7 linked regions of the Homo sapiens genome follow. The protein of the gene in region 1 interacts with the protein of each later gene in a pairwise test. Each region holds a gene or a part of one and is shown in the gene's direction. Other genes may lie near its edges.

What was found.
Region 2: the proteins of TRIM59 (region 1) and UBE2J2 interact in binary tests that used the Homo sapiens proteins (3 or more experiments, as listed by UniProt).
Region 3: the proteins of TRIM59 (region 1) and PDCD10 interact in a two-hybrid assay, tested with the Homo sapiens proteins (one large-scale study listed by BioGRID).
Region 4: the proteins of TRIM59 (region 1) and PBX1 interact in a two-hybrid assay, tested with the Homo sapiens proteins (one large-scale study listed by BioGRID).
Region 5: the proteins of TRIM59 (region 1) and RASSF3 interact in binary tests that used the Homo sapiens proteins (3 or more experiments, as listed by UniProt).
Region 6: the proteins of TRIM59 (region 1) and TEX30 interact in a two-hybrid assay, tested with the Homo sapiens proteins (one large-scale study listed by BioGRID).
Region 7: the proteins of TRIM59 (region 1) and SPTSSA interact in a two-hybrid assay, tested with the Homo sapiens proteins (one large-scale study listed by BioGRID).

What each region holds. Positions count from the first base shown.
Region 1 is NC_000003.12:160,446,987-160,450,954, reverse strand, and holds the start of TRIM59 (tripartite motif-containing protein 59), read left to right. Parts: upstream 1-1,168; 5' UTR 1,169-1,238; intron 1,239-2,159; 5' UTR 2,160-2,229; intron 2,230-3,968. UniProt on the Homo sapiens protein: E3 ubiquitin ligase involved in different processes such as development and immune response. Serves as a negative regulator for innate immune signaling pathways by suppressing RLR-induced activation of IRF3/7 and NF-kappa-B via interaction with adapter ECSIT.
Region 2 is NC_000001.11:1,260,355-1,263,854, reverse strand, and holds part of UBE2J2 (ubiquitin-conjugating enzyme E2 J2), read left to right. Parts: intron 1-468; coding exon 469-509; intron 510-1,464; exon of another isoform or gene 1,465-1,570; coding exon of another isoform or gene 1,571-1,586; intron 1,587-3,500. UniProt on the Homo sapiens protein: Catalyzes the covalent attachment of ubiquitin to other proteins. Seems to function in the selective degradation of misfolded membrane proteins from the endoplasmic reticulum (ERAD).
Region 3 is NC_000003.12:167,689,893-167,693,392, reverse strand, and holds part of PDCD10 (programmed cell death protein 10), read left to right. Parts: intron 1-3,500. UniProt on the Homo sapiens protein: Promotes cell proliferation. Modulates apoptotic pathways. Increases mitogen-activated protein kinase activity and STK26 activity. Important for cell migration, and for normal structure and assembly of the Golgi complex.
Region 4 is NC_000001.11:164,565,684-164,569,183, forward strand, and holds part of PBX1 (pre-B-cell leukemia transcription factor 1), read left to right. Parts: intron 1-3,500. UniProt on the Homo sapiens protein: Transcription factor which binds the DNA sequence 5'-TGATTGAT-3' as part of a heterodimer with HOX proteins such as HOXA1, HOXA5, HOXB7 and HOXB8. Binds to the DNA sequence 5'-TGATTGAC-3' in complex with a nuclear factor which is not a class I HOX protein.
Region 5 is NC_000012.12:64,613,495-64,616,994, forward strand, and holds part of RASSF3 (ras association domain-containing protein 3), read left to right. Parts: intron 1-3,500.
Region 6 is NC_000013.11:102,765,388-102,768,087, reverse strand, and holds the end of TEX30 (testis-expressed protein 30), read left to right. Parts: intron 1-609; coding exon 610-815; intron 816-1,507; coding exon 1,508-1,687; 3' UTR 1,688-2,200; downstream 2,201-2,700.
Region 7 is NC_000014.9:34,455,741-34,459,240, reverse strand, and holds part of SPTSSA (serine palmitoyltransferase small subunit A), read left to right. Parts: intron 1-3,500. UniProt on the Homo sapiens protein: Component of the serine palmitoyltransferase multisubunit enzyme (SPT) that catalyzes the initial and rate-limiting step in sphingolipid biosynthesis by condensing L-serine and activated acyl-CoA (most commonly palmitoyl-CoA) to form long-chain bases.

The sequences.
Region 1 (3,968 bases):
GTAACCTACCAAATAGCTGTAAGTATGCACTGGTCTCTTAGGGGAAATGAAATCCTGTTAAAATTTGTCTCTGGCCACCTAGGCGAAACCCTAACTTCTTCACTTTGGAATGCTAACCCCATTTGGAGCTGGTGTCTCCTGGGTGGCTACCCTCAAGCCTTACGCTGGAATAAACTCTATCCTTAATCATATTTCCAGAACCTCACTATTTAAGGTTGACAGGAGAGGGAAGCGGTGATGTCTTGAGATAAAGCTGAATAAAGTTTCTCAAGAAAAAAAGGGAAAGGAACCTCTAAGCTGTACGTTGTTTTCTAACTCTAGGGAGTTAGAGGTGAAGTAGGAACTTGAAGTTGGAAGTGTTGAGTTGGACAGCCCTCATCTCTAGGCAATACTTTCATAAAGTGGAAAAACGGGGGAAGAGGACGAAGGCTAGGGAGAGACGCAGGGATCTACCCAACCCAGTCCTGAGTTTCCCACTCGCTCTTGGAGTTGAGTACAAAGAGCGCTCCAAAGCCCCTTCTCCTGTGCTCAGCCCAGTGCTCCGGTGGGTCAGGTCTCCGGAATGCGTAAACAAAAGCAAACAGCTGAGCGGCGGAGGGCGCAGGCGACAGATGTGGGTGTTCCCTGAGAATGTGTGGCGACTTCCCGGAGCAGCGGGTCTGTGAGGCAACGATGGAAGACACTGCGCTCCACAGCATAGCAGGAGGCCCCGCCCCGTGTGGCGCCAAGTAAAAGATAATTCCTCAGAAGCCGTCGGCCACCGGCGCTTCGCCTCGTCCCGCGCCAGGCCCAGCCTCTCCCCCAGACCACCGGTGCCATGCGGATTCCCCAGGCGGGACCCCAGCTCACGAGGCCCACTGGCCGAAGCTCCCCACAGGATAGAGAGCCGCTCCTGCGAGGCCAAGCTTCCGAGAGGCGGCCTGCGCCTAGCACGCAGGCGCGGAAAGCTGGGCGCCAGCCTTAAACTGACTCCCGCCACCTGCCTCGGGCCGCGCCGTCCACCGTTTACTTTCGAACGAGCCCAGCAATAGTTCCCATTGGCCGATGCCTTGCAGTTGAATGTTGCCTGCAGACTGCGCCTGCGCTGCGAGGCTCCGCGAGGCCCCGCCCGGTCTGGGCACCTGAAGCCCTTCGGGGCAGAGGAGGGCGGGGACTCGGGGCGGCTCTCAGCATCCGCCTGGAGCTCGTGGCGCTGTGTTTCCGTGCTGTGGAGTTGCCTGGTCCGCTTCCTCCCCGCGGTGAGTCTAAGGACCTTTACGGATGCGGAGAAGGTGGTTCTGAGTCCTTTTTCTTTTCCTGTAGCACAGTCTGGTGTGCCTAGTGTGTTGGGCGGGGAGTCCTGGGGGCGCGACGATGGAGGGAGTGGCTTGGGACCTGCACTCATTCCCTCTTGTCCCATACTGGAGTTTGGGGAGCCACTTTCCCGTCCCTCCACTGTGGAGCTGCGTTCCTGTGAGGGAGGAGGCCCTCTGTGGTGGCGAGGGTGAGCTGAGCGGACGCCGCCGAGTCGGTCAGTCCCGCGGGGTTGGGGACGGGCGGGTGCCGAGGTGGAGGCGCGTTAGGAGGGAGGCCTGGGAGAGTGGAGCTTTGAGAAGGGGAAGGGAAGAGTACTGCCATTTTGAGCCCCTTTGTGGGAGGTGCTCGCAGGACTTAAGTGAGGTAGGTGCAGTTACCCATTTTACAGATGTGAAGCCTCACTTTTGAGAGGTATTTGGTAATACTGACCCAGGTCCCACAGCATTGAAATGGCAGAACAGAGAGATGAGCAAACTATACTAAATCAGTTATAATTTAGAGCTGGCAAGGTATTTTACTCCCATGGATGCTTTTGTCTTGCAGTTAATTTTAAGCACTCTAAAATGACCGTGAATGTTTTTTCTGCCATCACCATTGTTGGGTAATATTGTCGAGAGCTCATAAGCTACTTGACGTTGTGAAAAGAGGTCCTTTGTGACAGTCTGTTTGGTCAGAGTTAGGATTTTCAAGGAACAAGCGATACCTCTACTGCAGCTCCAGCAACTGTGTTGGTGTTTGTGGCTTTTCTGAAAACACGATGAAGCATCGTGAAGATAAATATCAAAGACAGTGAACTAACAACCATTTTTATGACATGAGACAATAAATTGAAAACATTAAAGATAACATTATTTTAATTTTAGAATAAGAATAAAAGATTCTGGAGGAGTTGGAGAAGAGTGTATTCAGCCCCCAAACCACGAGATCAACAAAGTAGGTAATCTGGGAGATTAAATAAATATGAAAAACAATTAAGTTTTTACAGAGTGTATGATTTAAACTACAAAGTGAAATTTAGAAGTCTTTTGAAAAAACATTGTGTTGGCGGTGTATAAAACTCCAACCATTTTATCGAAGGAGCGGAGCATAAAGTGAAAAATAAACAACTCCCTTCTCTGATCTGTACCTTAAAAGTAGTCACTTAACTCTTTTGTACATCCTTCTAGAAATTTTACAAGAATGTGTACATCTCAAAACACATGCAAAGTTGTTATTTTATACATACAGATCTGCAGAACTACACAAAACTGCAAATTAAGTTACCTGGATACTTTTTCACTATGCATTCATGTATTGGTCTTTTTAAATGAGTAAGTAGCTATTTAATCTGGCAAGGTGAAATTTTGATTTTAGGTGATGTTAGTTTTGACATTGCCTTTCACTAAACACGTTGATGAATATTTCCCACCAGATATATTTTTACTTTGAAAAGTACAGCAAAAGCAATTAAAGCCTTAATTTCTCAAGTCAATTCCGGTTAAATTGAATTAATAGTCTTTTTTTGTTTTGTTTCTAGTTTTTATTTTTATTTTTTAGTTTAGGGAAACAGGTTGATATCAAAATGAAAGAAAATAGTACAGATGGACAAAGAGATTTAAAATCAGCTGACCATAGGATTTTTTTAATTTGAAAAAGTTAAGGTGATCTCTCACTATTTTTGTATATTTATATGTGACAGAATTATTTTTAAAAATCTTGTTTCTCAGACTTTCTGCGATAATGTTAAAAAAATCTTATATATGTTTATAAATGGTGCAGTTGTAGTTATTTCTTAAGTAAGTCTTGACTTGCATGAAATGTATTTCTTCTTTATCAGTTAGGTCCACAAAGATGTGAGCCCCAGTTTGGGTGGTGGCACCACTTGAATTTTCCCATACTTAAAGCTGACTCACTAGAAGTCTTGGGACAAGTCATCGAATTCTATAATGTAATAAATATATTTTCCTTTCAGAGGTTGTGAAATGTAATGAACGTTTTACAACTGTTCATGTTTAGAGTTGAAAGGCAGGAAAGCATTAGTGAATTAAAACTTAAAAACTGGTTTACACAGGAGAATGGGTAATGATATTTTCGGTGCTATTTAATCATCTATTATACTGTCTATTACCTAATATGCCAGTTAGACATCAGGGAGGCTCACTAGTGAATTGGCCCTCTGGAGAAAGACTTAATAAAAAGTTTGGAAATTCAGAAATGTATTTGTTTTGACACTTAAACACACTAGACATTAGTGAAATAATTTGTAAGTAGAGTGATTTAGCCTCAGGTTTCTTTCTGAGAAGATTCATTTTTTTATATTAATATTTCTCGGTTTTAAAAGAGAAGCAGGAAATCTTGAACTTGGTTTTTACATGAGCTTAGTACTCACTAGAGGAAAATACATTTTACATGGATTATTTTACTTTTTTGCTTTTTAAAAACATACAGTAGTATAAATTGATTCAAATTCATTTAGCAAAAGGAAGACTGGATAATAGGCAAGACGCTTGAAAATTTTTTAAAGTTTTTTTTTTATTGTGTAAAATATGCTAAACATAAAATTTACCATTTTAATCTTTTTAAGTATGCAGTTTGGTGGTATTAAATACATTCAAATTGTTTTGTAATTATCACCATCAACTATCTCCGTTAACTTTTTCATCTTCCCAAACTGAAACTGTGTACCCATTAAA
Region 2 (3,500 bases), on another chromosome or scaffold:
CACCCGGCTAACTTTTTTTTTTTAAATAAAGGTGGGGTCTTGCTATGTTGCCTAGGCTGGTGTCAAGCTCCTGGGCTCAAGCGATCTTCCACCGTGCCCTCCCAAAGTGCTGGGATTACAGTCTTCAAGTACATCTTAGTAATGTACTGTGAAATTAAAATTTATTTAAGATTTCAGTTATTATTAAGATGAGCTTCGTGCATGTTATATTGTCGAAACAAAGGTACTTTATGGTAAACTTATAAAGTATAGTCTCTAAGATCCTGTTACAAGAGACTAAAAGCACCCACGGTAGAAGAGACGGGGGTTTTGAAGCCGTGTGGCTGTGTGACATTTCACCTTCATTTGTTCACTGCCTGAATGTGAATGTAATTTTGGCTGGGTTCTATAAACCCCAGGCTTGGAATGATTCAGATTTTGGAGAATTTGCTGTCCTCAAATCCCAAGTAATTTTCTTCTCTCCCTTAGGCACTATGTCGTCCGAGGCCCAGAGATGACCCCTTATGAAGGTAAGGATTCTGTGCTTAGGAGAAGAACACCAGGCGGTTTTTATATTCTCAGTCAGCCTTGCCTGTTCAACATCTTTTATTTGCAAACAGCAGCCTTTCTACTTTGGATGTGTGCTAGTTAAATTGGCTTAGTTGGAACTCCTCCTCGTCTGCTTCTCCACACGCTGGAAGTGTTTGCTCTGCTGATGTGTCTCAGCCTGCAGGGCCGCCTGTAGCGTCTGTGTTCACCAGCCTCTGACACCATAGGGCCATAGCTGAGAAAACCAGACCGGGGTAAACACTGAAGCTGGCCTGTTCTACTATTTCTTAAGACCCAGTGCATATCATCAAAGGAAAGGCACATATATTCAGTTATTCAGTGTGCCTTCTGTGCTGGGCGCCCCCAGGGTTTCGCAATCCCCAGGACGGTCTCTGAGCTAAGTGGAAGTACCCCTGTGTGGTGGCACCTGGGGCTTCGGTAGGCTGCAGGACCTGTCCAGCACCTCAGCCCTTCATCGACTACCAAGGCTGATCCAGCAGCCTGACCCCTCCAGGTCAGCAGACACCACCTAGAGACCTAGTGTCATTTATAGAGAAGATGCTGGAGCTGTCAGTAAGTTTCTGGGGCCTTTGGCGGAGGCTGGCGCCAGCCTCGATCTGGACCAGGTCAGTAGTCAGTGTGCCCGTGAATACTGTCCCGCCGGCAAGCACAAGGCAGAGCAGGGCCAGGTCAGCAGTTGCTGTCCAGCCACAGGGCCCCGGCTTCAGGTGGCTGGAGCAGCAGGCTCTGTTTGCCTGTGTGTGGAGGCTTTGGATGAGATTTCACTAGAAGAGAGTGCTGCTGCTAGAAGAAGGTTTGCAACCCCTGCTTTGGACTGTCGGGAGGGTTGTGGGTGGGTAAGAATGAAAAAGGCTCTCCTGAAGGCATTTTGGCCGAGTTAACACAGCCACACCTGTGGACTCTCCTTTGGCCCAGGAATCCCAGTTCTGGATCATCTGCAACTAGGGCAGCCAGAGTGCGGGAGTACATCTGTAGGGTGGGCCCTCCATCATCGTGTCATTGCCCATGACCAGCGTTGGGGATGCCAGCAGGCCGTGGTGAGATAAGGCCCGGGAGCAGGTGTCCAGGGCGTGTTAAAGTACTTGTTACGATGCGTGTGTGTGCCTTCAGCTGATCTGAAGAATATATACCACCGAGTGAGTAGTGGTCGGCCGGGCGCGGTGGCTCACGCCTGTAATTCCAGCACTTTGGGAGGCTGAGGTGGGCGGATCATCTGAGGTCAGGAGTTCGAGACCAGCCTGACCAACACGGAGAAACCCCATCTCTACTAAAAATACAAAATTAGCCGGGTGTGGTAGTGCATGCCTATAATCCCAGCTACTCGGGAGGCTGAGGCAGGAGAATCACTTGAACCCGGGAGGCGGAGGTTGCAGTGAGCCGAGGTCGTGCCGTTGTATTCCAGCCTGGGTGACAAGAGTGAAACTCGTCAGGAGATCCAGACCATCCTTGCTAATACGGTGAAACCTTGTCTCTACTAAAAAAATACAAAAAATTAGCTGGGCGTGGTGGTGGGGCCCTGTAGTCCCAGCTACTCAGGAGGCTGAGGCAGGAGAATCGCTTGAACCCAGGAGGCGGAGCTTGCAGTGAGCCGAGATCGCTGCACTCCACCCTGGGTGACAAGATCAAAACTCCATCTCAAAAAAAAAAAAAAAAACCAAAATGGGTGGTGGTCTTTGACAAGCAAAATTATGCCAGCTTTACATTTTTTTTGTTTGTTTTGTGGTTTTAGTTTTTTAAAAATAAATAGTGAATATTAATTCTGTATCCACACCCAGTCTCCCTCAACTTCACCAGCTAGGTCAGTTGCTGGTGGAGATGAGCTGCTCCCCCAACAGGGCTGGACACAGTTGGGAGAAGAGGGGGCAGCCCCTGGGTGTGGTGCGGCCGTTGCCAGCCCCAACCCTGTCACTTGTGCTTTTATCTTGGTCCCCTCCCATCGCTTCCGTTGTTCCCCACAACCGTGTGTGGCTCTGTGCTGGTCCTGGGTCTCAGGAAAGCCTCCCTTCAGAGAGAGAATGTGTGTTCCTACTGCCCCTCCCATTTCCCTCTATGGCACTGCTGCTCCCGTCCCCGCGGACCTCCCCCTCACTGGGGGATGCCTTTTGCTCTCTGCAGCCCTGCCCTCTGCTCTCCTTCAGGGTCTCCAGGGAACCCCTCCGAATTGCCACTTGCCGAGGGGCTGTTCTCAGTCCTCAGTTTCTTAGCCTCTGGTATCTGATGCTGCTGACGACAGCTTCCTTCCTGACTTCGGGATTTCTGACCCCTTTTCCTGCCTGTGCATTAGCTGCGTCCCCTCCGTGCACTGGGTTCCGTGGCTGTTCTGCCCCTGGTGCTGCCCAGGCGTGCCCACTCTGACAGTTCAGAGCTGGCTTCCTACAAATGTTGCTAAATCATTCCCCTTGAGTGAATCTGTAGATTTCACACAGTCCTAACAAAATCTCAGTTTTTTATACTACACAAGCTACATGCAAAGGCAAAGGACCTAGAACAGTTAAAACCATTTTTCTAAAGAATGAAGTGGAGTCTGTGGTTTCAAGACTTACCCCAGTGATGAGGGTCAGGCAGTGGTAGAGGAGGGACAGGCCATGGGGCAGAGTAGCCAGCTAGGCCTTTGCCTCAGGCTTTTCAGCAGATGGCCTGGGGTGTGGGGATGTTCAAGCTGCCAGGGACCCACTTCAGGACAAGTGGGTGCTTCCTGATTTTCATCTGGTGCTGTGAACGTCTGTGTGTGTGTGGCTCTTGGTGCCTTTGTCTTGGGTTTCTCTGGCGGGTGACAAGCAGTGGGATAGCCGTCTGGGGCTTCCCGATAGGTGTGCGCGCAGTGAGGCAGCAGGGCGCCCGTCTCCCATCCCGACAGGTGTGCGCACGCAGTGAGGCAGCAGGGTGTCCATCTCCCAGCACCCTCTGCGCTCAACTGGCTGTTTCCTGCCGTGTAAGTCACTCTTGCCCAT
Region 3 (3,500 bases), 7.2 Mb from region 1:
TTTGCCTCAGTTGTAAGCTGGAAAGTCACTGGAATAACTTTAGAGAATAATAATGATACGTGGCTTTTTAGATTTTGCAGTACATATGTTCAGAATTATGTACAAGTTGAAATGTCTGTGTACTGATCCTCAACACAACTGATGAAATCTCAATTATGAAAGAAAAAGAAAACATTCATCTTTTGAAAATAGTATTCTTTGTCATTCACATTGAGAAATGCTATTTTAGCTTGTTTGGATACCTAGCTAGTTTGGATACTCTCTTTTGAGTCACATAAAGAGAGGAATATGTCCCATAGAAAATAATGGTTCGTGATAGGTATGCAACCCAGCTATCAAGGAATGACCCTACTCTTTGACAATAATTAAGGGCCAGGAATATAAAAAAGGCTTTTAATTGAATAGCCAAAATCTGTGTCACAAGGGACAAACACTAAGGGTTTTTTTGTTTGTTTTGTTTGTTTGTTTTGTTTTTGAGACGGAGTCTTGCTCTGTCGCCCAGGCTGGAGTGCAGTGGCGCCATCTCGGCTCACTGCAAACTCTGCCTCCCGGGTTCATGCCACTCTCCTTCCTCAGCCTCCAGCGTAGCTGGGACTACAGGCGCCCGCCACCATGCCTGGCTAATTTTTTGTATTTTTAGTAGAGATGGGGTTTCACTGTGTTAGCCAGGATGGTCTCGATCTCTTGACCTTGTGATCCGCCTGCCTTGGCCTCCCAAAGTGCTGGGATTACAGGTGTGAGCCAACACGCCTGGCCTAAGGGTTTTGTATTTTACCTTTCCTATGGGAAAGCCCCAGCTTCCTTTTCTACTTTTAATATGTGAAGGAGGAAGATAATCAACTGTTCATGGAGTTTTATTTTTAATCTGGTACAAGTTGAGCATCCCTAATTTGAATATCAAATTCTAAATGCTCCAAAATCCAAAACTTTTTGAGCACCGTGACATGACACCATAAGTGGAAAATTCCACGTCTGACCTCATGTGATGGATGGGTTGTAGTCAAAACACAATCAAAACTTTGTTGTATGCACAAAATGTATGCATATATGGATGCACTTTATGAAACATAAATGAATTTCATGTTTATACTTGGGCCTCATCCCCAGGTCTAAAGACTTCTGGTCTCAAGCATTTTGTTTAAGGGATACTCGCCCTGTATAGTTAAAGTAAACATGTTTGGCCTGTAAAAGGATAAATTGTCAGTGATCCCAAACTTAGTTGTTTAGACTATTTATTTCTAAAGTTTTGAAATAATTTGGTAAGTTTTCATTTGCTTTGATAATCGTGTACTTGTTGATGAGCCATGACACATTTCTATGAAGATTTGACATTTAAAATAATATTTGCAGCAGATTTTGCTTCAGATCATCGAAGTAGGTTTATATAATCAATGTCATCTTAATAACAATCATTTATATAGGACTTATTATATGCTAAGCACTATTTTAATCACTTTACATTTATTTACTTATCACAACAACCCAGTAACAAGTGAGGAAATTGAAGCAGGCACAGAAAATTAGGTAAGGCCACAGAACTTACCTATTAAGTGGTAGAGCTGGATTTGAACCCAGGCAATCTAATGCCAGGTGTTCACTGCTGTTTCCCAATCACAGACTTCCAATGTTGATGTAATCTGGAGATTGAAAAATAGAGTTTCTGCCATTTGAAAGAAATGTGAAAAAGGATATTTTAACATAGAATGCCAGTACGTGAGAGAGATAACAGTATTGTGGTTGAAACTGGCATAGAAATGTAGGCCCAGAGCTCTCATCCTGTCACTTTGACATCCTCTTTCCCCCTACAGAGTCCCTGAGACATCTCTGCTAAACCGTCTGTGACTCTAGGGAGCTGCGGTTTGAAAACCACATTATTAGCAGCACATTTTAGTCATAAGGAAATTGAGCTTAAGAGTCTTGTCTATAGTCATTGACAGAGGCTTTCTTTAGGGTGTTGTTTTCTTTATGAGGGAGTAATAATACTTCAGTTCTGTTTTCTAGAGTGTACTAATTTAGCACAATTGAATTAAGAGTAATGGTGGCAATGAAAATTTACTTCCTAACCATTTGAGGAGGGATAATTTGCCCTGGCAAGTTTGTTGATATGTATGTTATTTCTGAGACTAAAATTCAACCACATATGAATAGCATAGATAGGCTAAAGTATAATTATTTGTATCACTGTCATATATTGGTACATTTTCATGTATGTTCTTACCATTATTAATTGACAAATTAGTGGATAAAATTGCACTAAAATAGAAAATGATTTCTTCTTCAGGCGTTTCTCCAATATTTTACTTTCTTATATCTAAGGTAGTTATCCCCTTTATTCATTTTAGCAACATTTTTCAATAAGCATATGTCATATACATATTACACCAAGTACTATAGGTGATGCTATAGATTGTATCAAAGTACAAGTAAAAAAGAATCCTGACAGCTAATAAATATTCAGGCAATTTTGAATATATTAGCAGACCTAGATTTGAATCTGTGTTCCAACATTTAGCTATGTAACCTTGGATATAAGTTGCTTAACTTCTGTCATTTTAGTTTGTGCCTCTGAAAATGAGGGTAATGACTTGTGAGAATTGAAAGAAATGATGTACATGAAGTGCCTAGCACAGAACCTAGCATACATTCAACAGTACATGCTATAATAACATTGTGAAATGAGGATTTTCCTCCCTTTTCTCAATGGAGTTGATAAGGAAAAATGATCCAGCAAATATTTCAAAAGGCCTTTTGATCAATGAATGTGTGTGCCTGAGTACATTTGAGCTATGCAAATATGTTATAAAATTAATTTGTATTTTTTTTGAAGTCCAATACATCTCAACTAATGGAAAACTAGTGGAGACTCGTGATTTAACAGACCAAAATAAAAAAGCCAGGCATTTATTTACTGTTTGTAATCTGCATTTGCATATTCTTAGGCTAAAATTCAGCAAGGTTTATTTGTTTTAAGTTAGGAGTTTTCATGAAGGGTTCAGAATAGATTTTTTCAGAGTTTTCCAGTCTAAACCAAACTCAACATAAAGCACAGGGATTCCCTTTCATTAGTGCATTTGCATAAATGCGTATCATGCAAATTTGGGTGGCATGATTAGAAACTCTACTTTTCTATTGCAGTTTTTTGATAAGATGTATGTTTACGTTTCATCTGAAGCCTTTGCCTTTCAGTGTAATGTTTCGCAAAGCTGCGCTATTAGGTTGGTGCAAATTGCTAAGTTCCTTCTCCTTCTACTCATACTATCTGCCTCTTATCACAGAATTCATCTGCACCAAGCCGCATTCATTAGTTATGCGATATTTATTTTACCCTCAAGTTTTTTCTCAGTTCTTTATCTGGTTAATTGTCTATAGTGGTTTTTTTGTCCTGGTATTTTCTCTCGTAGGAAACAAACTCTCTGGTAGTTACTAATATAATTTAGCTTCTCTATGTGCACACCTTGGTGCCATAAATGAAAATACTTTTCTGTGTACATATGGATAAC
Region 4 (3,500 bases), on another chromosome or scaffold:
TTGCCAGCATATCTTTCATGCAGTTGATGGGTCGGAGGAACAAAGTGTCTGTAAAGTTGCAGGAGCTTTTTTTTTTTTTTCCCCCTCTTCTTCTTGATACAGAGCTGGTGAAAACATCGCTTGAGTGATCAGTTCACATACATTCCTTTATTGTTTGGGGACTTTTTCTATTGTTACTTTCAAGCCTTTTTGCATTAAATGAGTATTTTTGAGTTTCCATCTCAAGCATTATAATGCTTATAATAATAATAGAGGTTACTTGATTTAGGGTGGGCTTTGTTTGTTTGTATTCTAACACGAAGTTCATACATTTGGCTCACCTAGGCAGAACTCTTGAGAGGAACTTGGTAATTGCATTGATTTGTTATTTTTGCTTTTTTGCATTTGTTAATGATTTTATAGTTGGAAGACTTAGAAATAGATACAAAAACTGGCTAAGATGTATTACCAACCTTTTGGAACTTTAAAAATACATACACACATGCACGTAACACCCCAAAGTAGAAGGTGCCATCTGAATTACAATTGATTGATGGGTGTTTAAGTCAGAAATTACTGTGGGGATATTTAAAAAACAAAACAAAACAAAAGAACCCATGCATCTTCTTGCTTCAGAATGTGGGTAGTTTTTATTCTGATACATTTTCGCTTTTAAAAAAATAAATGCTAAGAAGAAGTGCCAGCAAAATGCTCGGGTGGCAATTCTCAAAGAGCAGCTAAAAAACCCTGTCAAGACCTATAGCAATGTATATTTCACATGTGGCTTTTATCTGCTCGCTCATTCTAGGAATACAGAGACAATTAGAGTTTTGGATCATTTAATATAACACTTTCTTTTGGATTTTTAAGATCCATTCCTTGTCTTCTGGCATATTAGTAATAGGCTAAGTTTTGCATATGTGTATATATGGTGGTAATGGGGTTGGTGGGATAGAAGAAAAGGAGAAAAAGTCAAGCATATTACATTTCTTTAAAAAAACCTTGAATATATTTTTAAACATTTCCTGATGTTTTTTATTCCTGTGTCAAAATCACGCAAGTTTAAAAATTAGGAAAACACGAAAAATATTGAATGCCATTTACTAAGGAGAATATTTATAGATAGCAATGAATAGCTGCAATTGTTGTGAATAGTTTTTAATTTTAGAACATAATAGCTATATATGGCACTTTTCAGCCAATTTTCCTCTGTGCATTGTCTGCATCAAAGTTAACGCAAATCAAATCTTTGGAGGAGGTTAAAAAAATTTATTTTTTGCTCCTTAACACCCTTTTGTTCTCTCTCTTTCCTTTTCTCTCTGTGTTCAATTAACACCCCCATCACAGAACTGTAGTGTGTGTGTGTTTTTTTAATTCTACTACTTTATTTCACTTTTGACACCCTCCCTTATTATTCTCGCCTGCCACTTCTTTTTAATATAGCAATTACATTATGGGACTTCTCCTCTCCTCTCCCCTTTAAAGCATTAGAGAATAATTTGTGTGTCTATGTATATGTGTGTGTGTATGTTTGCATATGTAGGTGGAGGGGCGGTGGGTTATGGAAGGAAGCTAGAGATTGCGGGAAGAGAATTCTGATGGTATTAGGCCTTGAGCAAAATAGGAGTAAAATAACTTTAAACCATTTAGAAGCAGCCTCTGATCAGATTCCTTTTGGGGTTGAAGTGGTAGGAGTCATTTTTGTAGAAGGTCATCGATAGCCAGCAAATGCAAAAACTTTTCTTGCTGATGAGAAAATTCAAGAATTTGGTTCATTTTTTTTTTTTCTCCCTCCTGGTAAAGATGCAGAGGAAAGAAAAGGGGATCAAATGAAAGGAACTTACAAATCAGTTTTACCTGATGCTATCTTTCAGGTACAGTGTGTTAAGGCAGAAGTAATGTGGTTAGACCCTATATTATTTATTTATTATAATGTGGATATAAGCCGTAGACCTACAACAATATAACTCTGACAGACATAATATAAGAAGAACTTGTAATGAGAAATGACTTTTCTTTTTAGTCACTTTTGTGTATTCCATTTTTAGTCTACTACTAGAATTAGAACAATTCTGGCTTTTGAGAAGTGCAAAGAGCAATTTGGTCAAAGCTGCCAGAATGAGAATTTGGGAAATTTTGGTGTCATTTTTTTCTAACAATAGGAGTGTCTGTGAGGATTGGACATGAGAGCGATTTAGGTTATACTGAAGGATCTGGAAGGGGATTTATAAGCGGGGAAACATAGAACCTTGTGAACTAAGAGCTGTGGGGCATTGAGCTGGGCCGGGTGTGGGTGGGTTCTGTACAGTAGGCTGCACTGTTGGCTGAGAAGGGGGCATTACCTGCCTGTGTGTTTAGTTCACTGCTGGTGCCAGACCTATTCACATGGTTTTGCCCCTGCATTCTGTTGACATCCATGAACTTTTTGTTGTGGTTGTTGGCAAAATTATAAAAATACCCCCAAACGAGCAAATAAACCAAAACCTAGATGTTGCACATAATTTAAATTGGAAGACATTTTCATTTGTAAAGCATGACCCTGACTTCTTTTGTGTCATAGGCATATCTTAGGAAAGCTTATTCTTCAATTTGGTTTCAAATCTCTTTTAGATGGATGATACTATGTTTGAACTTGGTGAAGCGAATCTAAATATTCTTTTTATTGCTTTTCCTTTAAAAAAAAAGTTTACCAAAGCACCACATGATAGAGACAGTGTCCTAGGTCCAGCTCCAAACAGCTCTTATTCATTCTCTTATGACCCTAAGAAGCACCCATTCATTTTCATTGCCATATTAACCTGATTTGGAGGAATATAATAATTTTGGTTCCATTGCCCTTTACCTGCAATGGTGTGGTAAGATTTAAGGAATGCAATAATTGATAAATAAGTAGAGAATTCATGAGTTGTTTGTGAAGTGCTTTGAGTTCCTGTGGGTTATGTAAATAATTAAGGCACTGTATTTTCTATAATAAATTATCTCAGGATTCATATCTTATTTCACAGGATATCACTGCATTTCACTCTTTCAGGCTAAAAAAAATGTACGTCTACTGGTCTTTAAGTAATGGGGTAATCGATCGTCGCTCATGAGGAAAGTTCTCTGGTTGTATCTTTGCCCCATCTGCATCTCAAAGATGGCACTTCTCGGAACTTAGCAGAGTGATCCCCAGAGGGGAAAAAAGGTGCAGGAATAGATTGTCATAAGATTATAACACCTATCCCCCATGATGGCAGAATAAGGTCAATAGTGTCTTACCCGAAGGTCTTCTTACCTCTAACAGCTCTCTTTCAATCTCTCAATTATTGGTGGAAATTGAGATTGCAATGGGTGGAAAATTCATCCTTTTTGGTTTAGGTTGTAGTTTCAACTGCATCTTCTACTGAAACTTTTGTCATTAAGTAGGTATTGGGGTGGGTATACCTCACACTCTGTGCTAGTTCTGGACCTTCTACTAAGTAGTTATAAGACCATAGAAAAGTTGCTTAAATAATTTTATGATAAACTATAATAGTAGTGGT
Region 5 (3,500 bases), on another chromosome or scaffold:
ATTTCTTTCTTCTCTTGCCAGGCAAGGGAACATAGTGCAACTTCTTTCTATCCCCAACAGTAACAAAAACCTTATAAAGAAAATGTTTTCATTTTTTTTCTTACTTTAAACCCCATTCTTAACAACAAGAACAACAACAAAAATGGAAAAGGGTTAAAAAACCTGTCTAGGCCACGTGTGGTAGCTCATGCCTGTAATTCCAGCACTTTGGGAGGCTGAGATGGGAGGATTGCTTGAGCCCAGGAGTTTGAGACCAGCCTGGACAACATGGTGAAACCCTGTCTCTACAAAAAAAATGCAAAAATTAGTCAGGCATGGTGGTGCTCGCCTGTAGTCCCAGCTACTCGGGAGACTGAGGTGGGAGCATTGCTTAAGGCCGGGAGGCAGAGGTTGCAGTGAGCTGTGATCGCACCACTGCACTCCAGCCTGGGCAACAGAGCGAGACCCTGTCTCAAAAACAAAACTGTCTAAAAGATATAAAGGGAACGAACATATGACGTTTTGTGGCAGTTTGAATGTCATGTTTATTGTATCCGCAGGGTCTCGATCAGTACCTGATATACAGTAGTTGCTCAGTGAATGCAAGCTGAATGAATGAATGTTTTCCTGATTTGATAGTAACTGGGTCTTTACCATTTCTTTTTTTTTTTTTTTTTGAGATGGAGTTTCACTCTTGTTGCCCAGGCTGGAGTGCAATGGCGTGATCTCGGCTCACTGCAACCTCCGTCTCCCGCGTGCAAACGATTCTCCTGCCTCAGCCTCCCGAGTAGCTGGGATCACAGGCACCTGCCACCATATCCAGCTAAATTTTGTAGTAGAGACGGGGTCTCACCATGTTGGCCAGGCTGGTCTTGAATTCCTGACCTCAGGTGATCTGCCCGCCTCGGCCTCCCAAAGTGCTGGGATTACAGGCGTGAGCCACCGCACCTGGCCCCTGATCTTTACCATTTTCAAATGTACTGTATCTTATGGTGCTCCCAAAAACTGTATGAAACATTAACTTAATGAAAGGGGGAGGTATTATTTAGTGATTGTATAAGGCCCACACCTAGATAGCAAGAAGGCTGGAACTCAGGTTTTCAGACTCAAATTACACTCTCTATTTTGTTACTTTTTAGCTATAAAAATAATTTTATGGCTCCATATTCCCTTTGCAAATAAGGACACCTAAAATTTAAGAGTTTCTTAAAATTTCTTTTCTTTTCTTTTTTTTTTTTTTTTGAGATAGATTCTTACTGTGTCACCCAGACTGGAGTGCAGTGGCAGGATCTTGGCTCACTGCAACCTCCATCTCCCAGGATCAATTGATTCTCATACCTCAGCCTCCTGAGTAGTTGGGATTACAGGCACCCGCTGCCAGGCCTGGCTTTTTTTTTTGTATTTTAGTCTAGATGGGGTTTTGCCATGTTGGCCAGGCTGGTCTTGAACTTCTGACCTTAAGTGATCTGCCCTCCTTGGCCTCCCAAAGTGCTGGGATTATAGGCATGAGCCACCGCGCCTGGCTGTTTCTTAAAATTTCAACTCCCTGACCTGCATATAGTCATGACAGTGTTTATAATTTGTATTTGTGGATTCACGTATTTGTGGATTCGCTGTGTTTCAAAGGATCCACCTAATCATTGTTTTCAGCAAAACCAAAAATGTGGACAGTTGTGTAATTTATTATTTGCCTTCTTGATTTCCCACCAAAATCAAACTACCTGTAAATACAGGACACATTCAGATTTCCAAAGAATAGAAATGGTCTAAAGTTATAATCTGTCAGAGTGTGTCTTACCTCTTAGCTAAGCTACCTCTCCTCCTGAGCCTTTGGTAGTTCATGGGAATAAGGAAATGAGACAGTATTTTTGCTTTAGAAGTAGGGTAGTCAAGAAGTCTTGAGAAACGTGAAATTGTCTTCTGAACAACCCACACTTTAAAAAAAATTGCGCTGAAGAATTTTACTTCAGTAAGTAAGTCTATTAGACTCCCCATAGCAGGCCTCAACTTCACCCTTTCGGTTTTCTCTTTCTTATTCAAATATTTTTGTGCCTCAATTATTTGGTTGTGTCTTATTGCTAGAATCAACAGTAATGAGCTGCACTCTTTTATTAGTGTTTCCATTAGAAGTTTAGAGCTAGATCACTGGGGTAAAAGAATAGTGGTTTATGACATAATAGGTATTTTGACTCTACTAGCCTTTTTCTTTTTTTTTTTTTGAGACGGAGTTTCGCTTTTGTCACCCAGGCTGGAGTGCAGTGGTGTGATCTCGGCTCTGCAACATCTGCCTCCTGGGTTCAAATGATTCTCCTGCCTCAGCCTCCCGAGTAGCTGGGATTACAGGCTCCCGCCACAGTGCCTGGCTAATTTTTTGTATTTTTAGTAGAGACGGGCTTTCACCATGTTGGGCAAACTGGTCTCAAACTCCTGACCTCAGGTGATCCACCCACCTCGGCCTCCCACAGTGCTAGGATTACAGGTGTGAGCCACCACTCCTGGCCTATACTAGCTTTTTAAATGCTGATTTTTAATTCCCGTATTATGGGGCATAAACATTTTCACCAGACATTTTGCCTAGGGCAAGGTGATTTACACATCTTTTCTGCATGTCTGATATGTTCTGTTCTTACACGATATTAATCCATTGGAATTTTGTGTTTGTGTGAGCAAGATTCACAAAGGCATATTCCTTTAAATGAATTTCAGAAGAAAAAGTTTCCAGTCCTATAAAGCCTCATATTTGAGTAGTATACTCCTTATCCCATTTCTTCTTCTGGCCAACTCACAAGATTTGGAATTATTTGGAAAGCAGTGACACAAAACATTTTTGAAAAGAAAGGCTAAAAATATCCAATAATGTGGTTATTCTTTTTAGACTTCCTTTGGCAGTCAGTGCATGTCATACGGTTAACATTCTTTTTCTGGGAGAAAAAAAAACTGAGTCTGACCAAATACTTTCTAGTGTGGCCTGATCACCAACTCTTAGCCCTGGGCATTAGCCCTCGCATTTTCCACCCCCAAGTCTCCAAGCATAAGTAGCTGTCTTTCAATAAAGGCCCCAGTTTGAAACGTGTATTTCACTCCTAATTTGGCCAAAGGCCATTGGCTAGCAGTCCCTCTTCAGAGGGGATGGTGAAAAGACAGTAGGATATATGATAAATGCATGCAAAGGAGCTTCTCTTCTATATGACAAGTCTTGGCTAACTTAGCCTCTTTGCATCTTCCTCTGTTTGAAGAGCTACACACATTTGCCTTGTAGGAAGTTTTTATTCTCATGGCAAGCAGGCATTACCTCTATTACAAGGCCCCGCTTATTGTTCACCCTGTGATGTAAGAGCTTTTAGGACTCCAACAATATTAGCCTTCTCTTTAATTCCTTTCAGGCCCCATCGCCATCTCAGAACCATGGCCTGGAGTTGCCGCCCTCCATTCTCCTTAACATGTCGACTCAGAAAAGTCTTAAAGCCCGCTGTTCTTTCCCTTCATAGCAAAAATTATAATTTATCATTATATTTTGTTTA
Region 6 (2,700 bases), on another chromosome or scaffold:
CTCATGTATATGTATTATAATCTGAGCCTCTCTCCTTTTATTCATATCCCTGAATCATCATCCTGCATATGATGATTCCTTTACAATGATTGTCCTTGTCCTTTTAAGTGTTCTTTAGAAAAATAATTGCCTTTTATTTTTTTAGCATTTAAGATCAATTTTTAGCTTTTTTTTTGAGACAGAGTCTTGCTCTGTCACCCAGGCTGGAGTGCAGTGGCGCCATCTCGGCTCACTGCAGCCTCCACCTCTGGGATTCAAGTGATTCTCCTGCCTCAGCCTCCCAAGTAGCTGGGACTATAGGTGTGCACCACCATGCCTGGCTAATTTTTGTGTTTTTAGTAGAGATAGGGTTTTGCCATGTTGGTCAGGCTGGTCTCAAACTCTTGACCTCAGGCAGTCTGCCCACCTAGGCCTCCCAAAGTGCTGGGATTACAGGTGTGAGCCACCGTGCCTGGCCTGGTATTGCAACTTGTTAATTGCTGCCTTTTGGAGTTAATTTGTTGGTAAACAGATATGATGAACAGTAAAAGATCCAATTTGCCACACCATCACTGCTACTTTATGTGAAAGTTTATATTTCAAACTGAACTTAATTTTAATTGATTTTAGGTCGTTCAATGGGCTCAAGAGCAGCTGCTTCTGTAATGTGTCACATTGAGCCAGATGATGGTGATGATTTTGTTCGGGGTCTCATTTGTATTTCTTACCCACTGCACCATCCAAAGCAGCAGCATAAACTCAGAGATGAAGACCTCTTTCGTTTAAAAGAGCCTGTACTGTTTGTGTCAGGCTCAGCAGATGAAATGTGTGAAAAGGTGAATTATAACTCAATGTTTGTGTCAATGAAAGAGAATGAAAGGCAGACATATCTTGGGAGCAAGATACTTCTGGCAACAGTGTCTTTTAAAAATTGCTAATTTGACTAATGCTAGTTTTGTGTCCTGGTTACTCTGTTGCTTTTGAGAACCTAAAAATATAAGTATAGTGACAAAATTTGTATCCCTGGAAATAGAGTTGGTAAATATGACCCTTACTTGGAAAATGAAGGATTAATATCTGAATCATCTGATTTTGGGATTACTACACTATAGATTTTTTTAATCATTTCAACATTCAGGCAGAGTATTTGTTATAAAATTGATTCTTGAGAAAGGGTTGGCAATGTCTACACATTACTAAATATTAGCCCAATATTATGAAACAACTTTATATTCCCCAGGGCATATAATTTGCTTGGGAAAAAGATTTTTGGGGGAAGAAATTTTTTTATTCCAATTTATTTTACATTTTATTAGTAATAAATGCTTGATCTGATACTGCTACAGCTGAGAGAAGTGGACTGCCACTTTTACGGACATTTCCTCACACATTCTATTACCTAGAAAGTTGTCTGAGAAAGCATTTAATGAATACTTGGGAATGAATGCCAGTATAGGCAGGGGAGAGAGGACCTTTTATTAAATATCAACAGAACATTAGTCTAGTATCCTCTTCTTTTTCTCTTTAGAACTTGTTGGAGAAAGTGGCACAGAAAATGCAAGCTCCCCATAAAATCCACTGGATTGAGAAGGCAAATCATTCCATGGCAGTGAAAGGACGGTCGACAAATGATGTTTTCAAAGAAATAAATACACAGATTTTGTTTTGGATCCAAGAAATTACTGAAATGGACAAGAAATGTCATTAGTTAAAAGCCATGTTATCTTGAGTACACATACAGTTAATTTGATAAAGAAGAGTATGCCTCTCAGCATTGTGAGATATATTTCAGACTAATTTGATGTTCTTTAATGTTCCCTTATTTTTGAAACACGTTTTAAATGTGAAATTAATGTCCTTCACAAAATGTCTTTTGAAAGCACTGTTACAGTTGTATAAAGATGATGTAAAAATATTGAAGGTGGTCTACATATAATTTATTTTCATTAGTATAGTTAAGTTTTGAAAAAAATTAAACATCTGAATTTTGTTACAAAAAGGTGCTTTTGTCTTATTGATAGGCAACTGAGAAATTTTGCAGAGCAGCGTTATCTTCAGAAAAGGAAAACATTATGGTTAATCTAGTCAGAGATTTATAGAATGCACACATCTCTTCACCTTATCTTTTAATAAATCACAATGAAAGGATAGGAGTGGACATATGTTTCAAATATGGGGACCCTGAAGATTTTTTAGAATGAAATAAAGATCTTTAATTCAAGAAGTGTTCACTGAAGGCTTATTACAGGCAAACCTCATTGGGTTTGCAAAGATGAATAAAAACTTGGAGCTTACAACATAGTGTGTGAGGCTGGGCACGGTGGCTCACATCAGTAATCCAAGCATTTTGGGAGGCTGAGGCAGGCGGATCACTTGAGGCCAGGATCACTTGAGGCCAGGAGTTTGAGACCATCCTGGCCAACATGGCAAAACCCTGTCTCTACGAGACCATCCTGGCCAACATGGCAAAACCCTGTCTCTACTAAAAATACGAAAATTAGCCAAGTATGGTGGCACACATCTATAGTCCCATCTACTCGAAGGATGAGGTGGAAGAATTGCTTGAACCCAGGAAGTGGGGGCTGTAGTGAGCCCAGAGCACACCACTAGACTCCAGCCTGGGCAACAGAGTGAGACTGTGTCTCAAAAACACAACATAGTGTGTAAAATCAATAGACTACTCTGATTAAAGAGAGAAATAATTGCTAAATTGTAGTACTA
Region 7 (3,500 bases), on another chromosome or scaffold:
GTCTGGTCTCAAACTCCTGACCTCAAGTGATCCGCCTGCCTTGGCCTCCCAAAAGTGCTGGGATTACAGGTGTGAGCCACCGCGCCTGGCCCAGATTAATTTCTTAAAGAGGATAGATGCATTAGTTTACATTTCCTGCTATATAATGCATTTTTAAAAATTTGAAGTTGTGGGCCGAGTGTGGTGGTGGACGCCTGAAATCCCACTAGTCGGGAGGCTGAGGCAGGAGAATCGCTTGAACCCGGGAGGCGGAGGTTGCAGTGAGCCGAGATCACGCCACTGCACTCTAGCCTCAGTGACAGAGTGAGACTCCGTCTCAAAAAAAAAAAAAAAAAAGTTGTAATTTCAGGGGAAATTGATAACGTACTATCACTGTACTTTCCAGGGGCATCCTTGAGCATCTGAATGGATGTTTAGAAATTATTTGCTTCTTGACTTCCCAAGTCAAATAGCTAGAAGTTAGTTAAAAGCTGTTGTAAATTGAAAGTCAATCTTGGCCGGGCGCGGTGGCGGTTCACCAGTCTGGCCAACATGGTGAAACCCCATCTCTACCAAAAAAAAAAAAAAAAAAAAAAAATTAGCTGAGTGTGGTGGCGCACGACTGTAGTCCCAGCTACTCGGGAGGCTGAGGCAGGAGAATCGCTTGAACCCAGGAGGCAAAGGTTGCAGTGAGCCGAGATCGTGCCACTGCACTCCAGCCTGGGCCACAGAGCAAGACTCCATCTCAAAAAAAAAAATAAAAAGAAAGTCGATCTTAGGCCTGGCGCGGTAGCTCACACCTGTAATCCCAGCACTCTGGGAGGCCGCGGTGGGCAGATAGCTGGAGTCCAGGAATGTGAGACCAGCCTAGAAAACATGGTGAAACTCAGTCTGTACTAAAAATGCAAATATTAGCCGGGTGTAGTAGTGTACGCCAGCTACTTTGGTGGCTGAGGCACCAGAATCTCTTGAACCTGGGAGGCAGAGGTTGCAGTGAGCTGAGATGGCGCCACTGCACTCCAGCCTAGGTGACAGCCTGTTCAAAAGAAAAAAAAATCTCAATTGAATATAAGTATTTTTGAACTTACCTATGTAAGGAAATTGCAATTTGTAAAAAAGATTTTAAGATGTGTTTTTAAGGAAAAGCATCTATTGGGTCAAGTCAGACACATTGTGAATAGTTCTTGAAACAGTAAGATTTATAAGTAAGTTTTGTAAATTCTTCCTCACTAGGGCCTATATACCATCTGTCTTTTCTTTTCTTTTCTTTGTTTTTTTTTTTTTTTTTTTCCGAGACAGTCTTGCTCTGTCACCCAGGCTGGAGTGCAGTGGTGCGATCTCGGTTCACTGCAGCCTCTGCCTCTGGGATTCAGGCGATTCTCCTGCCTCAGCCTCCCAAGTAGCTGGGACTACAGGCCGTGCCACCATGCCCAGCTAAATTTTTGTATTTTTAGTTGAGGTGGGGTTTCACCATGTTAGCCAGGCTGATCTTGAACTCCTGACCTCAAGTGATCCCCCCACTTCAGCTTCCCGAAGTGCTGGGATTGATTATAAGCATGAGCCAAGATGCCTGGGCTACCATCTGTCTTCTGATGAGACATTTGAAGTGATACATTGGCTTTTGGTTTGTCAAGGAATATTTGAACTTTTTCCATGTGCAGACATGTTTCTATCTTACAGAGAAATGGGACATGACACCTGCATTAAGACAAAAGGTAACAATAAAGAAGAATCTGATAAGTGCCAATTAGTATTACAGTATATACTACAAAAGGAGACCTACCATAGACTGAGAACCACTGACCTTATCTCAGGAGGAGACATTTTTAACATACCTTTCAAAAGTATCCTTTCCCTACTGGCATCCCAAGGTGGGAAAGAAAAGACCAGGTTTTGTAACCAAGATAGGCTTTTGTAACAGTGAGACACGCCCTGAAGTACCTCACTTGGATAACGTTGTAACCATTCCTGTTGAGAGTTGAGAAAATTAAAAATAGATTGTTAAAATAATTTGAATCAACTTTGGGAGGCTGAGGTGGCTGGATCACCTGAGGTCAAGAGTTCAAGGCCAGCTCGGCCAGCATGGTGAATTCTTGTCTCTACTAAAAATAAAAAATTAGTGGGGCATGGTGGCTGGCGCCTGTAGTCCCAGCTACATGGGAGGCTGAGGCAGGAGAATTGCTTGAACCTAAGAAGTGGAGGTTGCAGTGAGCCAAGATTGTGCCATTGTACTCCAGCCTGGGCAACAGAGCAAATGCTCCGTCTCAAAATAATAATAATAATAATAGTAATAATAATAATAATAATAATAATTTGAATCAGAAGTGTGCTATTTTAATCTTTTTTCTTTTCTTTTTTTTTTTGAGATGGAGTCTCGCTGTGTTGCCCAGGCTGGAGTGCAGTGGCGCGATCTTGGCTCGCTGCAACCTCTGCCTCCTGGATTCAAGCAATTGTTCCGCCTTGCCCTCCCGAGTAGCTGGGACTACAGGTGTGTGCCACCACGCCCGGCTAATTTTTATATTTTTTAGTAGAGACAAGATTTCACCATGTTGGCCAGGCTGGTCTTGAACTTCTGTCCTCAGGTGATCTGCCTGCCTCAGCCTCCCAAAGTGCTGGGATTACAGGCATGAGCTACCGCGCCTGGCCTAATCTTGTTTTATTCATTAAAAAATAAAGTCATATTAGTCTATAATCACTGGGCTATATTTGCCCATCTCTTTGCTGCTGATGATGTTTCCATGGCATGTTATTTTCAGCAAAATGTGGGCAGTTTTTTGGTTTATGTTAGGAATTAGATTCACCCTGAAAGACAGTTCATGTGTCTTGAAAACATTTTTTTCCCACTTTTAAACCACAGTGCTGGGCACACAAATAATGCTTAAAAAACAGTTGTTTATATATTGATTTGTTATTTTATTTTATTGATTTATTATTTTTTTGAGATAGGGTTTTGCACTTGTTGCCCAGGCTGGAGTGCAATGACGCGATCTCAGCTCACTGCAATCTCTGCCTCCAGGGTTCAAGTGATACTTCTGCCTCAGCCTCCCAAGTAGCTGGGATAACAGGCACCCACCACCACGCCTGGCTAATTTTTTGTTTTTTTAGTAGAGACGGGGTTTCACCATGTTAGCCGGATGGTCTCGATCTCCTGACCTCGTGATCCGCCTGCCTCCGCCTCCCAAAGTGCTGGGATTATAGGTGTGAGCCACCGCGCCCAGCCACACATTTTAAGCTGTATGTTATTTTCAGTAGCAACTAAATTATTTTCTTAGATTTTTGCTGTATCCTCAGATACTTACAACTTAGAATTAAAAAGGACTTTTTTTTTTTGAGATGGAGTCTTGTTCTGTTGCCCAGGCTGGAGTACACTGGCATGATCTCAGCTCACTGCAACCTCTGCCTCCTGGGTTCAAGCAATCCTCATTCCTCAGCCTCCTGAATAGCTAGGATTACAGTTGCACGCCACCATGCCCAGGTAATTTTTGTATTTTTAGTGGAGACGGGGTTTCACCATGTTGGCC